Regions from separate parts of the Homo sapiens genome. Here region 2 is reported to be linked to region 1. The links are microRNA targets in miRTarBase. Many come from high-throughput screens and were not tested one by one. Region 1 holds a microRNA gene; the other region holds the end of a gene's coding sequence.

Evidence for each region. The annotated mature microRNA hsa-miR-3692-3p reads GUUCCACACUGACACUGCAGAAGU and lies in region 1 at 1,287-1,310, shown strand. An mRNA with a match to its seed (bases 2 to 7 or 8) in the 3' UTR can be bound and repressed. Matches are read on the target gene's strand: a 7mer-m8 pairs with bases 2 to 8, a 7mer-A1 pairs with bases 2 to 7 and ends in A, and an 8mer does both.
Region 2: the mRNA of LIFR is a reported target of hsa-miR-3692-3p. Seed matches in the 3' UTR shown: 8mer at 1,941-1,948 and 8mer at 2,048-2,055.

The regions. Positions count from the first base shown.
Region 1 is chr6:157,527,889-157,531,025 of GRCh38, forward strand. It overlaps MIR3692 (microRNA 3692), which reads left to right and starts at 1,244; the gene lies at 1,244-1,312. The region is part of intron 1 of ZDHHC14 (zDHHC palmitoyltransferase 14); the gene reads left to right. RefSeq lists an enhancer at 2,861-3,137.
Region 2 is chr5:38,478,898-38,481,964 of GRCh38, reverse strand. It overlaps LIFR (LIF receptor subunit alpha), which reads left to right. Exons shown (of 20, transcript NM_001127671.2): 20 at 1-3,067. The coding sequence ends at 370. Among named protein-coding and RNA genes, the nearest start is that of EGFLAM-AS5, 12 kb to the right of the region's middle.

The sequences.
Region 1 (3,137 bases):
GGGGCTTTCTGATCCTTCTCTCTCTCCATTGTATCACTCTGCAGTTTCCCTGTTGATTCTCCAACTTTGCCATCTGCTTGGCAAAATTCAAGAAAGGTGGCACTTATTTAATTGATTGTAGCTTTCATGGCAGTCACACCTTCCAAGCCTTCCATCAGGCCAGCCAGGCATGATTTCCTTTGTTTCAGTCCCTCTTGGTGTTCTCTAATTAAATATGCTTTTTCCAGATGTTTCTCCACCGTATTCTTTAAGGTTGTTTCCACCATTTTTCCCTAGATCTAATGTCCATTATTTTGCCTTTTGCCCTTCTCTTTTTAGTAATCAGTTAATAATCGTGTTTGCCATGGGGAAGTCCTCAGGAATACTTCTGTTGTATTTCAAAATGAGCTGAACAGTTTTTTTGTTGTTGTTGTTTTTTAATCTCAGAAGTGTGTGGCTTAAAAGAAAAGTAAAGAAATGATATGAAAGTTTAACCATAGATGAATATACTTGGAAAAGCACAAGTAGATGAAGACTGGGGATGGGAGTGGGCATTAATCAATTAATTTAAAAAGCACGATAGGGTGGGCGCAGTGGCTCACACCTGTAATCCCAGCACTTTGGGAGGCTGAGGCGGGCAGATCACGAGGTCAGGAGATCGAGACCATCCTGGCTAACATGGTGAAACCCTGTCTCTACTAAAAATACAAAGAAATTAGCCAGGCGTGGTGGCAGGTGCCTGTAGTCCCAGCTACTCGGGAGGTTGAGGCAGGAGAATGGCAAAAACCCGGGAGGCGGAGCTTGTAGTGAGCCGAGGTCGCACCACTGCACTCCAGACTGGGCGACAGAGCAAGACTTCATCTCAAAAAAATAAAATAAAATAAAATAAAATAATTAAAAAGCACAATTAGATGAAGACTGGGGGTGAGAGTGGGCATTAATTAATTAATTAAAAAAGCACAATTAGATGAAGACTGGGGGTGGGAGTGGGCATTAATTAATTAATTTAAAAAGCACAATTAGATGAAGACTGGGGGTGGGAGTGGGCATTAATTAATTAATTATAAAAGCATAATTAGATGAAGACTGGGGGTGGGAGTGGGCATTAATTCCTCAACAGCACATGGTATTTTTCAGGTTTCTCCCAATGAGTTCAAAGAGTTTCATTGAAAGTATATCCTTGTAGTTGCTAGTGTCTAGGAGACACACTCAGACTTCCAGTTTTACTCAGCACCTACCACCTGTACTCTTCTGAGGTTCTTTGCCATTCCTGCTGGTCAGGAGTGGATACTGGAGCAATAGATACAGTTCCACACTGACACTGCAGAAGTGGAGATCTCTGGAGTCTCTGCAACCCCACCCTCTCTTCACAGGGAGCAAGTTACTTCTTGAGTATAACCTGGGAATTTTAGAAAGTTTATCTTTTTTCATAAATGAAAGTTTATGTTTTAGCATTGTACTGGTCAGAATCCTCCAGTATTTAAGCAAAACTAACCAGTACGGTCTTTGTTTAGTATACATGTATTTTGCAATAACAGGAGCAGTCATCACCATTTAGTGTCAAGCTTGATTGACAGGGCCCCTGGGAATCTGTGGTTTCTGTTGTGTAGAAACCACAGAGCTTGTTATTCTTCAACTGGAATTGGGAAGCGGAGCCCAAGAGAAATGTTCTTGACCTTCAGTCACTAAGGCGTTACTACCAGACTGCTGGCAATCCATCAATGAGCGACTTTGTCACCCAAGACTCCGAGCTTGTCTTCTCCCCAGACTGGACAAGGCACCTTCACGCAGAATAGTTTCAGGTTTCACTGTGTTCTTAATTACATTTAATGAGGATCATTGAGATCCTTATAAAAAGGTGAAAACAGGTACAGCTGTTATTGTATTCCACTAAGAAAATGTGTAGAGTGCAAAACAGAAGTGTAGGCCTCATTGTGGTACAATTGAGAGACCATGCCTTGGGCCCATGGGCTTTGATGGCGGCCACATCTGATTGACTTCTGGTTATGAAACTTATTAGCTAAACCAGGCTCAAAGTAATGAACCTCTTATAAGTCTTATCAGTCAAATTAATGAACCTTAGTTTCCTCATCTGTGAGATGGTCTCAGTAATACCAATGTCATAGACAATTAGCTGTGTACATTTCTGTAGACATTATATGAAATGTTATATGTGAAACTGCCTGCAATATAGGTACTCAATCAAAAAAATGTGAATTTTCATTTGCTCCCTGCAGTCTTACTATCTGGCTGCCTGTTACTTTGAAAACCATGTGTATGAAACAGTAACAGGCTACCTAAAAAGAAAAAAAGAAAAAAGAAAATGATGTGGGACCACATCTGTGTGTCTAGCAGGCATGGACCTTCCCTCTGGATCTGTTTGTTCTGACCTTGTCTTCTAATTGAGCTGGATAATTACATGGTAGGAACTCTCCCCAACATCAGGGCCGAGAAATGCTGTCACCATGTTTTAATGCAAAGGCACTTTGCCAAGGATAATAGTCGATACCACGGGCATTGTTTTAGGTGAGATAAAGGAATCATCTGTGAATGAATGCTGTGTCCCTTTAGAGAAGGAAAAAATGAATCGGCAGCCCCAACAGCAACCCAATATCCAAAGACTTTCAGTGAATTTCATTTTGTTCATTTTTCTACCAAATATGCACTTTTGAAGCTGTCTTTGCCTGATAGTCTCCAACTTGGTGTCACAGGGCTCGTGGGCTTTAAGCTGTTAACCTTGTTTTATTTCTCCCCTTTTTGGAAATAGAACCATTTTCTCCTGAAATACCTTTGTAGCCTTTTTTCTTTTCTACTCAAAAGCACCTTATTTCCATTTTGCATAATTATTATGTACTATTTTTCAAATTATGATGTCTCTGCTATTGGAAACAACATTGTTTAGTGAGTTTGTGGGTGAAATAGCTTAGCCTTCTGCACTCACATGTGTCTCTGTCTGAACGACTGGATATTTCTAACCTGTATTGGTCCTATATTATCTAATTCCTTGAGGTTTATGATGACGGATATGTTAAAAAAAAAATCTTCAATTCCTCTTTATTCTTAGGGAAACATTGTAAAGCAAAATTTACTTAGAAATTCTTCCTACTTTGCAAAAGAAAGAAGGTGGCCCTTTTTCTCCCCCAGGAGAGAGATCGTTA
Region 2 (3,067 bases), not on the chromosome of region 1:
TGATGTTCAGTCGATGTATCAGCCTCAAGCAAAACCAGAAGAAGAACAAGAAAATGACCCTGTAGGAGGGGCAGGCTATAAGCCACAGATGCACCTCCCCATTAATTCTACTGTGGAAGATATAGCTGCAGAAGAGGACTTAGATAAAACTGCGGGTTACAGACCTCAGGCCAATGTAAATACATGGAATTTAGTGTCTCCAGACTCTCCTAGATCCATAGACAGCAACAGTGAGATTGTCTCATTTGGAAGTCCATGCTCCATTAATTCCCGACAATTTTTGATTCCTCCTAAAGATGAAGACTCTCCTAAATCTAATGGAGGAGGGTGGTCCTTTACAAACTTTTTTCAGAACAAACCAAACGATTAACAGTGTCACCGTGTCACTTCAGTCAGCCATCTCAATAAGCTCTTACTGCTAGTGTTGCTACATCAGCACTGGGCATTCTTGGAGGGATCCTGTGAAGTATTGTTAGGAGGTGAACTTCACTACATGTTAAGTTACACTGAAAGTGTTCATGTGCTTTTAATGTAGTCTAAAAGCCAAAGTATAGTGACTCAGAATCCTCAATCCACAAAACTCAAGATTGGGAGCTCTTTGTGATCAAGCCAAAGAATTCTCATGTACTCTACCTTCAAGAAGCATTTCAAGGCTAATACCTACTTGTACGTACATGTAAAACAAATCCCGCCGCAACTGTTTTCTGTTCTGTTGTTTGTGGTTTTCTCATGTGTATACTTGGTGGAATTGTAAGTGGATTTGCAGGCCAGGGAGAAAATGTCCAAGTAACAGGTGAAGTTTATTTGCCTGACGTTTACTCCTTTCTAGATGAAAACCAAGCACAGATTTTAAAACTTCTAAGATTATTCTCCTCTATCCACAGCATTCACAAAAATTAATATAATTTTTAATGTAGTGACAGCGATTTAGTGTTTTGTTTGATAAAGTATGCTTATTTCTGTGCCTACTGTATAATGGTTATCAAACAGTTGTCTCAGGGGTACAAACTTTGAAAACAAGTGTGACACTGACCAGCCCAAATCATAATCATGTTTTCTTGCTGTGATAGGTTTTGCAAGCCTTTTCATTATTTTTTAGCTTTTATGCTTGCTTCCATTATTTCAGTTGGTTGCCCTAATATTTAAAATTTACACTTCTAAGACTAGAGACCCACATTTTTTAAAAATCATTTTATTTTGTGATACAGTGACAGCTTTATATGAGCAAATTCAATATTATTCATAAGCATGTAATTCCAGTGACTTACTATGTGAGATGACTACTAAGCAATATCTAGCAGCGTTAGCTGTCCATATAGTTCTGATTGGATTTCGTTCCTCCTGAGGAGACCATGCCGTTGAGCTTGGCTACCCAGGCAGTGGTGATCTTTGACACCTTCTGGTGGATGTTCCTCCCACTCATGAGTCTTTTCATCATGCCACATTATCTGATCCAGTCCTCACATTTTTAAATATAAAACTAAAGAGAGAATGCTTCTTACAGGAACAGTTACCCAAGGGCTGTTTCTTAGTAACTGTCATAAACTGATCTGAATCCATGGGCATACCTGTGTTGCAGGTGCAGCAATTGCTTGGTGAGCTGTGCAGAATTGATTGCCTTCAGCACAGCATCCTCTGCCCACCCTTGTTTCTCATAAGCGATGTCTGGAGTGATTGTGGTTCTTGGAAAAGCAGAAGGAAAAACTAAAAAGTGTATCTTGTATTTTCCCTGCCCTCAGGTTGCCTATGTATTTTACCTTTTCATATTTAAGGCAAAAGTACTTGAAAATTTTAAGTGTCCGAATAAGATATGTCTTTTTTGTTTGTTTTTTTTGGTTGTTTGTTTGTTTTTTATCATCTGAGATTCTGTAATGTATTTGCAAATAATGGATCAATTAATTTTTTTTGAAGCTCATATTGTATCTTTTTAAAAACCATGTTGTGGAAAAAAGCCAGAGTGACAAGTGACAAAATCTATTTAGGTTCTCTGTGTATGAATCCTGATTTTAACTGCTAGGATTCAGCTAAATTTCTGAGCTTTATGATCTGTGGAAATTTGGAATGAAATGCAATTCATTTTGTACATACATAGTATATTAAAACTATATAATAGTTCATAGAAATGTTCAGTAATGAAAAATATATCCAATCAGAGCCATCCCTAAAGAGTGTTCTCTTGTCTTCCTTTGTATCCTCTTTGGCTCCTTCCCTTAGCTTCCACCCCAGACATCAGACCTGGGGCTGCCTTCTCTCCCTGCCAAAGCTTGCTGTTAGCATTGTCTGCTTGCCCTCAACTCCTGCCTTGTTCCCTGTTGAAATGTATCAATCCCGTACTTTATCTCTCCAGGACAAGGATAAGTGTGGCTACAGTAAAAGTTTATTGCTCTAAACGGCGCTAACCTGAGATAATGAGAAAAGGCCAGAAGAGATTGTTTGATCTCTGTCTGTCAATATATATGCATTTCAACTGTGACCATCTGGATCCAGGGCCCTTTCTAACCTATATAACGACTCATTTGTTTGGTTAATGATGAATATCACTGGGGCTCTTAAGTCCTTTCGTTCTATCCAAGACTTCATTGTTTTTTTCTGTATGAAAAAAGTGCAGAATATCACTCACCTTTCCCCTACTTTTGGATCCCCTACACGAGGATCACTAGCTTAATGAGAAGCAGAGTAACGCTATTAAGTCTGGGCAAGCTCCTTATAAGTTGCTGTGTGCTTAAAAGAATGTGATTTATGTCTGGGGCCAAAGCAGTTTTCCTTCTTTTCCCTCATTGAATTCAAGACAGCTAGACCCTTGTGTAGATCCCAGGATATTACCTCTACTCCCCCCAACCTGTGTGTGTAGGGAGAGTAACAACACGGGAAGAGGGGAGGGAAGTTGGAAGGAGATTGGTCACATGTTCAGTTGTCTGAGATACTGGTAAATGTGCGCTGTTTGTCAATGAAGGTTGCATGCCTGCATTTACAAGGTGGTCTCATACTGATTGTGCTCTGTCCAGTTAGATTCGTGGCTTCTCCCTTGGAAGCTACAATTAAGGACTAGTTAGAAGCAGAGGCTAGA